Homo sapiens: one gene and its partners. The gene in region 3 interacts genetically with the main gene of each other region. Each region holds a gene or a part of one and is shown on either strand. Other genes may lie near its edges. The genes, in order: SRRM3, HAPSTR1 and SRRM2.

Region 1 (3,649 bases), on a different chromosome or scaffold from region 3:
GCAGGAGCATTGCTTGAGCCTAGAAGGTGGAAGCTGCAGTGAGCCGTGATTGCGCCACTGCACTCCAGCCTGGACAAGAGAGTGAGACCTAGTCTCTAATAATAATAATAATAATAATAATAATAATAATAATAATAGTAGTAATAGTAATAATAATAAAATTCAGGCCCCACACTCAGATTTGGAATCAGTCGTTTTGGGTGGGTCCTGGGAATCTGCTTCTCATGGACTGTTCTAGAAATACTGGGGCAGGTACCTCTGCACCTAGGGACCATGGCTGCAGCGGTTCTGGGTGTCCAGATTGGGCTGAGCCGCAGAGAGGAGAGGAAAGGCCCCAGGCCATATGACCTATGTCCTGAAAACACACCGCAGGCCCCCTGTTGTCTCCATCTGTCCAAATCAAAACCGCTCTTCAGGGTGACCTTCCTGGAACAGCTCTGGCCATGCACTTACCTACTGGGAACATTCCTGGCGTTCTCTGCTGTCTACGGAAAAAAGGCTAGGCTGCCTCACCTGGCAATAATTCCCCCCCCGCCCCCCAACAGTGAGGCCCCTGTCTCCAACCCGGGCTTTCGCTCCTCCGCCCGGACCCTGGCACTCCAGCCATGCTGTTCCCCAAGCACCTGGTGCTCTTACCTCCTCCTCTCTGCTCCTGCCAAAATCACCCTGCCTCCTTGTGCCTCTGCCTGGCAAACCTGCATTCATTCTACGAGCTCCATCTGTGAGGCCGGCTCAAAAGTTAACCAAAGTCAACCAGGTCAGGGAGTCCTTCCCCACACCGGTGTCCCGGTAGCCCTTGGAATGCTGCTACATAACCCCTAGTCCATCTAAAAAACATTCTTGGCTGGGCGCAGTGGCTCACGCCTGTAATCCCAGCACTTTGGGAGGCTGAGGTGGGCAGATTACAAGGTCAGGAGTTCGAGACCAGCCTACCCAATATGTTGAAACCCTGTCTCTACTAAAAATACACACACACAAAAAAAATTAGCCGGGTGTAGTGGCAGGTGCCTGTGGTCCCAGCTACTCGGGAGGCTGAGGCAGGAGAATCGCTTGAACCTGGGAGGCAGAGGTTGCAGTGAGCGGAGATTGCCCCACTGCACTCCAGCCTGGGCAACAGTGTGAGACTCCATCTCAAAAAAAAAAAATTATCCAGGGCTGCTGGGGCTCAAGGACTGTCCTGCTCCTCCCATTTTTTTAGAGACGGGATCTCACTATGTTGCCCAGGCTGGAGTGCAGGGGCTATTTACAGGTGTGATCATAGTGCACTACCCGCCCCCCCAAGACTCCTGGACTCAAGCAATCCTCATGTCCCAGCCTCCCAAGTATCTAGGACCACAGGTGTGTGCCACCGTGCCCAACTCCTGCTTCTCCTCTCTTTACCTAATGCCTAGCACAGGGCTTGGGGATGACAATGTGTTCATGCAGCTTTTAAGTGGGGAAGAGCTACTGCTGTGTGATGAATGAATGAATGAATCAAGGACGATCTCTGCTTTCTGATGTCTGAGGAGCAGGAGAGAGAAGAAGACAGCATTTGAGAGGCAGGGAAGAGAGAGGTTTCTGGGGAGAATGACATATGTGTCAGATAGGGCCTGACAGAGAGGGAAGACAGGACTTCCCCCAGGAAGGACCCACTGAATGTTCCAGCTTTCCTGCCTCCCCAGAAGCCCCCTCTGGGGCCCTGATGAGAGAAGGGGTGGCTTGGAGGTTCTGCCAGTCTTGAAGCCCACTCCTCTAACCTGGGGTGCTCTGTCTGATACCAAGGGCTGTGCCATCAGCTGGAGATTGGTGTAGGGGGCAGGTTGCCCAGCTCCCAGAGGCATGTCTCTGGTATCCTGTACCCCCTTTCAGTGGTACCATCACCTCCTGCCCACATGAATAGGCAGACAGACACCTCCCTGACCTCTCTGCTCTAGGTCTCTTCCTTTCCCTCTCTGCCTCCTACCCTATTGCAGGCAGAGGGGCCTTCCTGAAGTGCAAACCTGAGCATTTGATGGCATTGCTCCAGAGCTTATAATTGTCATTGCTTTCTGAATAAATTTCCAGCTCTTGACTGGGTGCAGCGGCTCATGCCTGTAATCTCAGCACTTTGAGAGCCCGAGATGGGAGGATTGCTTGAGGCCAGGCATTTGAGACCAGCCTGGGCAACATAGCAAAACCCCATCTCTAAAAAAACATTAAAAAATTAGTTGGGTGTGGTGGCACATGCCTGTCGTCCCAGCCACTTGGAAGGCTGAGGCAAGAGAATATCTTGAGCCCAGGAGTTGGAGGCTGCAGTGAGCTATGATCTCACTATTGCACTCCAGCCTAGCAGATGGTGAGACCCTGTATCAAAAAAAAAAAAAAAAAAAATTCCAACTCTTCAAGGCCAACCACTCCCACTGGGCTGCCTATTATCAGCCCTGCCCTCTGTCCTGTCCTATGACCACATTAGGTAACTATCCCTTGAATCCAGCCAGGAGGTTTCATACCTCTGTGCCATTGCCCATGATGCTCTCTGGAGTGCCAATCCTCTGCCCTCTCTGTCTGGCACCTCCCCTGTCATTCTTTGAGGCCCAACTGAAATGTCACCTCTCCCAGAAGCCTCCTCTGATGCTCCATATCACTTTGGACGACTTAGTTCTAGCAGAACCTCAGTGGATCATCAGTTTTCATGACTGCCTTCCTTTCCACTGGTCCAGAAGCTCCTCAAGGTCAGAGGCAGAGTCTGATTCACCTCTGTGTCCTCGGGCCTCGTGCTGTGCCCAGAAAACAGGAGGCCCTCATTAAATGTCGATTGTATAGTCTAACCCCCTCAAAGGGTGACCTCCACCTAGCAGAAGTGCACTGGATTTTACCCTTCCTGGGGTGCTTTTTTGGAGACAGGATCTTGCTCTGTCACCCAGGCTGGAGTATAGTGGTGCAATCATAGCTCGTTGCAGCCTTGACTTTCTGGGCTCAAGTGATCCTCTTGCCTCAGCCTCCTGAGTAGCTGGGTCTACAGGTGCACACCACCATGCTCGGCTAATGTTTTCTTTTTCTTTCTTCCTTCCTTCCTTTCTCCCTCTCTCCCTCCCTCCCTCCCTTCCTCCCTTCCTCCCTTCCTTCCTTTCTTCTTTCTTTTTTCTTTCTTTTTTTTTTCAGGGTCTTCTTGCTCTACACTCACTCAGGCTGGAGTGCAGTGGCGTGATCTCAGCTCACTGCAATTTCCACCTCCCGGATTCAAGTGATTCTCGTGCCTCAGCCTCCTGAGTAGCTGGGATTACAGTCACCCTCCACCAGGCCTGGCTAATTTTTGTATTTTTAGTGGAGATGGGGTTTCTCCATGATGGCCAGGCTGGTCTCGAACTCCTGATTTCAAGTGATCTGCCCACCTCAGCCTCCCAAACTGCTGGGATTACAGGCGTGAGCCACCGTGCCTGGCTTAATTTTTTCTTTTTCTTTCTTTCTTCTTCTTCTTCTTTTTTTTTTTGTAGAGATAGGGTCTTATTATGTTGCCCAGATTGGTCTTCAACTCCTGGGCTCAAGTGATCCTCCCACCTCAGCCTCCCAAAGTTCTGGGATTACAGGCATGAGCCACCATACCTGGCTCCGGGGTGCTTTCCAACCCAGGACCTGAGTCACTTCTAGTATCATCTGGAGGCAAGTATCATTATATCCATTTTACAGAAGA
Region 2 (3,649 bases), 6.3 Mb from region 3:
TAAGAAGTAGAATATATCTATCACCCCCACCTCCCAGTCCCTGGCAGTCACTGATTTGATTGCTGTTTTTTCTCCTCCATCATGTCCTAAATAGAATGGTGCAGTCCTTGTAGCCTATTGTGTCTGGCTTGTTCCAGTTACTATGATAAGGTTCACCCATCGAGTTCGCATTGCAGGTGTGCATAGTTCAGTGCCTTTTGATTGGCTAGTATTACTCTATGGTGTGGCAGTACCATGGTTTATTCTTTTGCTTTTGTTGGTATTGCTTTGTGCTTGAAGGGGAAGGCAACACATTTTTAGTGTTTTTATGTGCCAGGTTCTTAGCCTAGGCCGTATAAAATGGGATTGTCCTCTGGCTTTGGTCCTGTTGGGTTCTTGTAGAATGTGTCCCTTTAGGACTAACCTAGCAGTTTTCGTTAGTGCTAACTTTTCGTGTAAGAAGATGGGTTCAGCAGTTGAACTCTGAAATAATCCTTAATTTGATTACTTCATTTAAAAATGTTTACAATTTGTTTGTTTTCCTGCTCAGAAAACTTAAGGAGGAACATTAATTTTATTTTTAGAAAACATCACATATGATTCTTGGATTATTGTAAATGCTAGATTGTTAGTCTGAACTAGTTTTATTTTGTACCTTGTTTCTGTACAGTGAAAACACATCCCTTGCCTAATAGAAATGGTAAGTTGTGTCTTGTGGAATTTGATAGTGCAACGTTTTCTTATTTGATTCAAGGAGTGTGTGGATAATACTCTGGATAGCCTCACACTTTTTCTTTTTCAGGGTGTGGTCTTTAGAGAACAGGCATACAGCTGTAGGAATAATTGGTTACCTTAAATAGAACCAATAAAATTAGCAAGGTGGTGTCACAAGTGCATGCAGCAGTAAGTAGTACTAAATTTAAATGATATTGGTTATAGTTCTGATTAAATATTTAAATATAATTTAAGGGGGGAAAAATTTGGTGGATACTTCTAAGTGGGCAGCAGGCAGCATTCCTGTATTTTGTATAATATCTGACAAGGTAAAAATGGCTTATTGTGCAGCCTGGGGACAATTTGGCACTCCTACCAGCTTCTTGATAACTACCAAGAAGTTCATTAGGTGTTTATCTCAATCCTGACCTTCATTAAGAAGGTCAGGATTGAGATTAAAAACCCAGCAGAGGGTCGCTTTTAGTTGTCAGAGGGCTTTTGAAAAGTTGAAAATTGAGTTAATTGGTTTGGTTGGAATGTGGCTAGAAGGATTTGGAAGATAATGTAAATGTAAGTTGAACTTCAGCAAGGACAGAATTCAATAAAATGGAGTGGGTGGTTACCTCTACTGTAAATAGTAGGGTCAGACTTGTCTTCCCCTTTCCAAAAAAGGAAGGAAGCCAAAATACTGACTGCTGGTTTTTGATTTGATAAATGCAAAGAGGATGGTGTTTCTTCAATATTCAGTAGTATCCTTAGATCAGTATATTTTTTGATTCCTGGAACTAAAGAAGGGGAGTAAAAAATCATTTTAATCTGGCTAGGGTTGATGTTTACCCAGTGTCATTGTGAGTTGGAGTCTACTGCCACATTGCCTGAGTTCAGATCTTGGCTCTGTTACTTCTTACCTTTATGGTCCTGGAGACAGTGAAGCCAGGTGTTAATTCACCATTGTGCTCCTTGACTTAATTAACTTAAATAGGGATAACTACCACAGATTCTAGTACAAGCTCTTAGCTTTGTGCCTGGCATAGTGAGTGCTCTGGCATTCATTGTGTTGGTGGTCAAGTTTTAAGTATTTTTTGGATTTTTCTCAATGTGGGCAGTGCTTAAAATGAAGGGAAGTAATAATAGTTTATTTTCTGTCTTTTTAAAAATTTTTTTTGTGTTGAAATAAACTCTGGTGTGTATTTCCTTCTTCATCTTCTTTCCCTAATTGGAGTAAATGTAAGTAGAATTGACAGGTGGGAAAAATAGTCTGATGCCCTTAAGTCCTCACTTTTGATACATCTTGATGCCAAGCCCTCTTTATATGTCTCACTTCAGTGTGGCCATTTTGGACTCGTACACTAAAGGAGAACTGAGCATAACTGTAAATGTGTGGGCCAAGTGGCAGGTGACTTAGAAACAAATGGCCAGAAATCATATTCTACCTGGAGACTGGTGGAGCTGGTTTGTGACTCACTTGGCTGCAAAAAATTATTACTGAGTTTGAGACTTTGTTCAAAATACCTTAGTGTGGATTACAGTGAGAAACCCTAAGCATTAAATTTCTATTTAACTTTTCATGCCTGTAATCCCAGCACTTTGGGAGGCTGAGGCAGGAGGATTGCTTGGGGCAATATAGTGAGATCCCGTGTCTTAAAATTTTTTTTTAATGAAAAAATTGTAGCTTTGTCAGAAGCAGTAGCCTCAGTTATACATAATACTTATTTTTTATAATAGACTGCTTTTTTTGTGTGTAGCTCTTATTTTTTTTCCTTTTTTGGAGACGAAGTCTCGCTCTTGTCCCCCAGGCTGGAGTGCAATGGCGTGATCTCGGCTCACTGCAACCGCCTCCCTGGTTCAAGCGATTCTCCTGCCTCAGCCTCCCCAGTAGCTGGGATTACAGGCGCCTGCCACCACACCAGGCTACTTTTTGTATGTTTAGTAGAGACGGGGTTTCACCATGTTGGCCAGGCTGGTCTTGAACTCCTGACCTCAGGTGATCCGCCCGCCTTGGCCTCCCATAATGGTGGGATTACAGGCGTGAGCCACCGCGCCTGGCTCTTTTTTTTTTTTTTTCTTTTGAGACAGGGTCTCATTCTGTCACCCAGGTGGGAGTGCAGTGGTGCTGTCTCAGCTCACTGTAACCTCCACCTTCCAGGCTCAAGTGATCCTCCCACCTCAGCCACTGAGTAGCTGGGACCACAGGCACCCATCACCATGCCCAGCTAAGTTTTTGTATTTTTGGTAGAGATGAGGTTTTGCCATGTTGCCCAGGCTGGTCTCCTGAGCTCAGGCGATCCACCTGCCTCAGCCTGCCAAAGTGCCGGGATTATAACTGTGAGCCACCATACCCAGCCTGTGTGTAGTTTTTCTGTGAAAGAATATGTTGGTTGCAAGTATGAGAAAACACAAGTTGGGCTGGCTTTAGCTGTATGGCCATGTATTGGCTCCTCTGACTTAAAAGGCCACAGTAGGATTGACTTAATTGAGCAGCCCAGGCTCCCCTGCTCTGTTCTCCCCTGTGTGCACTCGCACACTTTGTTATCAGGCTGGCTTCATTATGTTGGCAGAATGGCTTGTGGCTCACATCTTAGAGCCACTCAGTAAAGCTTAGAAGAGCCTAAAAATGACTTCTGTCATCTCTTGGCCATAACGGGGTCACTTGCTTACCCACAACCATTAATAGGGGTACATAGGGTTATGCACATGAGTTGAGAGCTAAGCCACAACCCCTTGAGCAAATGTGGAGGGAGCTTCTCTCGAAACATGGTTGCTATCTAAACAAAAACCTGGAGTGCTTTTAGGAAGGGGAGGACAAGGATTGGATGCCAGGCAGGCAACAAACAGTGGTTATTAAGATGCTCCCCCAGGGCTGGGGCGGGGGCTCACGCCTGTAATCCTAGCACTTTGGGAGGCTGAGGCGGAAGGATCATTTGAGGTCGGGAGTTTGAGACCAGCCTGACCAACA
Region 3 (3,649 bases):
CGTCTAACTAAGCTTCTACTGCGGGATCTTCCTCGTCTTGGTGTCCTAGACCGAGACCTCCCTCTCCTGGCTGGTGTTCTGGAGCGTGAGCGACCACTGCGTCTAGCTGGGGTTCTAGAGCGTGAGCGGCCACGTCTGGCTGGGGTTCTGGAGCGTGAGCGGCCACGTCTAGCTGGGGTTCTAGAGCGTGACCTGCCACTTCTCCTGGCTGGTGATCTACTACGAGACCTGCGTCGTACTGGTGATCGGGTCCTAGATCTGCGCCTAGCAGGTGTTCTAGACCGAGACCTGCCCCTCCGGGCTGGTGTTCTAGACCGAGACCTACGCCTGGTGGGAGTTCTGGATCGTGATCTCCGCCTGGCAGGTGTTCTAGAGCGGGACCTGCCCCGGCGGGCTGGTGTTCTAGAACGAGATCTACCCCTAGTGGCTGGGGATCTAGAGTGGGACCTCCCTCGCCTTGCTGACCTAGACCTGCCTCTTCTCTGGGTATTTCTGCTCCTAGACCAGCCTGGTCGCTGAGGAGACCTAGAGCGGCCACGTCGCTGGGGGCTTCTAGATCTTCCCCACCTCTGTGCAGACCTGGACCTACGCCACTGGGGAGATCGGGATCGAGAATGACCTCTCTTGGTAGGGGTTCGAGACCGAGATCGCCCTCTCTTAGCGGTGGCAGGGCTACGGGACCTCCCCATCCTACGGGAGGGGGTATGAGAATGTGATTTATCCCGTTTTGCTCGGCCATGTGAGCGATTCTTAGATGTGGGAGAAGAAGAAATCTCTCGGTGGGACCCTGGAGCTGGAGCAGGTTTAGGACTTTCTGGGGAAGAGCTGGCATGCCGAGAAACTTTGGTAGGTTGAGGGGATGGTGGGCTGCTCTCTGAGGAAGAAGACTGGGGAAGTTTCTCGGGAGACTTAGGTGGTGAACGGTCCCGAGTTGGAGAGGCCTCAGATGGGGGGTTCACTGGCTCCTGGCTTAAGGGGGTGGTTGCAAGGGGTTGTGGGGAGCCGCCATGTCGCTCAGCAAGGAGCGGAGTGGGAGCAGGTGGTTCTGGGCCTGTGCTGCTCCTTTCCGGAGAGGGGCTAGGTCGAGTTGCAGATTTCTAAGAGTGGAAGAGAGAGCAGGGATAGGGATTCATAAACGCCAAAACTTCACATCACCCCTAAGATCCCAACACCCTTTCCAATGATAACTTTTCTTTTACACACCCTCTGACCACAAGCGATCACTTTCATTCAATAACAAGGAATCATATAAAGCACAGTGGTGAAAACATATGAATATATGGATAGCCAGAATCTTAAAACTAAAAGAAACACAAAATGCAAATAACTAATGCACTACTACATTTAACAAATACCACTACAAAATGTTATAAGAATGGAAAAAAACTATCTTTAAATGGAAAAATAAGCAGTTTCCTAAAGCGAATGGCAACTTCACCTTTGAAGAATAACTCTATTAAACGAAAAGAAACAGCATGAATAAAGATGTGAGAACATGATTTGTGTGAAGAGTAAAAAAGCAGCCCAGGATGGGTAGAGTACAGGAAATGAGAAAAAGACCAGACTATTAAAAGCCTTAAATATAATTCAAAAGCAATAAGGAAGTAGTTAAGTTTCTGAGGTCAACCAACTTGTAATTTGGAAAGGTAACCCTGGATGACATGGAAAATTGATGATAGAGGCCAAGAATTCAGACTGTAATCACTAAAGCAAGAGGAAATGATTAATGCTTAAAATTGGAACAGAAGACTACTGAAGACTATTTCAGTGTTTCATTCAAACTATTGGTGGCAACGCAATGGATTAAAAAGTTTTGGTGAGACATGACCAGCATTTAATGAAAAAAGAGAAGAAACTAGAGGCATCATACGGAGTACACAGATAAGATACAACGTTTGTTCCAGTTCTATCTATGTATAAACAAGACACAATATAAAACCTAACATCCAGTGAGATTTGATTCTAAAGGGTTCACAATTCAGTCTAGTAACAACACTAAAAGTTCTGCAGATGCAGTAAGAGAACTAGGAGAGAAATGCAGGAAAAAAAACTGAATTTATTTATTTTAATAAGTTATTACCTCTCCCTTTCACATCACATGTCTATCCTAAATCTATACATTTGCAATCCAATGAACATCACCAACTCAGGAACATACCTCCTTCTTGTCTTTATCTTTGTCTTCATAAGGGCTGCTAGGCTGTTTCGTAGCAGTCTCCGGGCTACTAGGCCGTTGTGTGCTGGTAGTACCTGGTTCACTGAAAGGCGCATCTCCCTCCCCGCGTCGCCCTGAAGCAGGGGAAGGACTTCGCCCAGCCAAGGCAGTTGTATGAGTTTTAGCTGCAGCACTTCGAGACCTGCAGGAGTTAATTGAGGACGTGGGAGAGGAAGGAAATCAGCTCAAAGGGAGAACAGAAAACCCCCTCCCCAACTCCCATCCACCTTTCCTAACTGGACAACCCTCTTCCAAAAAGCCTTTAGTCGCACAACTCAAATCATTCACTGAAATGCAAGTACAGTCCACTTTGGTTCTTCTTTTCCCAACACAATCCCAAAGAGCGTTCTCCCTCTACCCCTTTACTCACCTCCCCCAAACATCCCCAAACCATCCACCCAGCCCACTCCCTACCCGCTTCATTCACAACTCACCTCTGAGCCCACCTCCTTCAGGAAGCCTTCCCCGATTAAGGAAGCCAGGGTAAGGATTCCTTCCTCCCCCAGACACCACGAACAAACCACCACCCCCCCTATTCTGGCAGTCCATATACATCAGAACGAAACAAAAATAACAAATAAACAAAAACAAAAAAAAAAAGAGAAGGGGAAATGTATATGTCTGTCCATCCTGTTGCTTTAGCCTGTCAGCTCCTAGAGGGCAGGGACCGTGTCTTCCGAATGGTCTGTGCAGCGCCTAGCACACCGTGGGCGCTCAATAAATATTAAATTAATTAACCCATCATTCCCTCTCCCTCCCTTCCTCCTGGACTACCCCTTACCGACTGCGGGAAGTATCGGAGGAGGAAGCAGAGTCAGCAGAAGTTGAACGGTGGGCCCGGCGGCTCTTGGGGGCTGGTGTTGTACTTCGAGACCTGAAGGAAGACCACCACCACAGCTCAGGGTACTGCTGTACCTGCCCTGGATTCTCCTCACGTATCCCTCAACCCTTTACCAGTCAGGGACATAACTCATTCAACTCCCTCCCACTAAGGTGGCGTTCACTTACTTCCTAAGCAAATTCCCCACAAATTCACTCACCGCTTTCGCTTTTTGTCCTTAGATTTACGTTTGCTCTTTGGAGTGGGAGACCTGGGAAATAAGGAAAGGTTGTTAAAAGTAACTTCTTTAAAAAAGGAAATAAAACCAAAAGTGAAATGGAAAGAGGGAGTGTTGACACAAGGAAGATCAAGGAATTGAGCTTCACTCCAAGAAAAAAAAATCACCACTCCACATGCCACTGCGCCCCCTATGAGTTAAAGAGCTCTTACCTATGCTTACGTTTCTTGGACTCAGATTCTGACCTGTTGGAAAAAAGAGAAGAAAAAACATAAGAAACACCTCTGCCTGAATTCAGCAAACCTTCTCCAGTCATTCAAGTATTCCCACCTCATACCTGTGCTTCTTCTTCTTTGAGCTTTTCTTTCTCTCCCGT

What was found.
Region 1: changes in SRRM2 (region 3) and SRRM3 together harm fitness more than expected from each alone (negative genetic interaction), as found in Homo sapiens cells (one study listed by BioGRID).
Region 2: changes in SRRM2 (region 3) and HAPSTR1 together harm fitness more than expected from each alone (negative genetic interaction), as found in Homo sapiens cells (one large-scale study listed by BioGRID).

What each region holds. Positions count from the first base shown.
Region 1 is NC_000007.14:76,208,305-76,211,953, reverse strand, and holds part of SRRM3 (serine/arginine repetitive matrix protein 3), read right to left. Parts: intron 1-3,649.
Region 2 is NC_000016.10:9,094,499-9,098,147, forward strand, and holds part of HAPSTR1 (HUWE1-associated protein modifying stress responses 1), read left to right. Parts: intron 1-3,649. UniProt on the Homo sapiens protein: Acts as a central player within a network of stress response pathways promoting cellular adaptability. The E3 ligase HUWE1 assists HAPSTR1 in controlling stress signaling and in turn, HUWE1 feeds back to promote the degradation of HAPSTR1.
Region 3 is NC_000016.10:2,759,009-2,762,657, reverse strand, and holds part of SRRM2 (serine/arginine repetitive matrix protein 2), read right to left. Parts: coding exon 3,611-3,649; intron 3,519-3,610; coding exon 3,486-3,518; intron 3,307-3,485; coding exon 3,256-3,306; intron 3,090-3,255; coding exon 2,997-3,089; intron 2,912-2,996; coding exon of another isoform or gene 2,869-2,911; exon of another isoform or gene 2,536-2,868; intron 2,358-2,535; coding exon 2,159-2,357; intron 1,098-2,158; coding exon 1-1,097. UniProt on the Homo sapiens protein: Required for pre-mRNA splicing as component of the spliceosome. As a component of the minor spliceosome, involved in the splicing of U12-type introns in pre-mRNAs.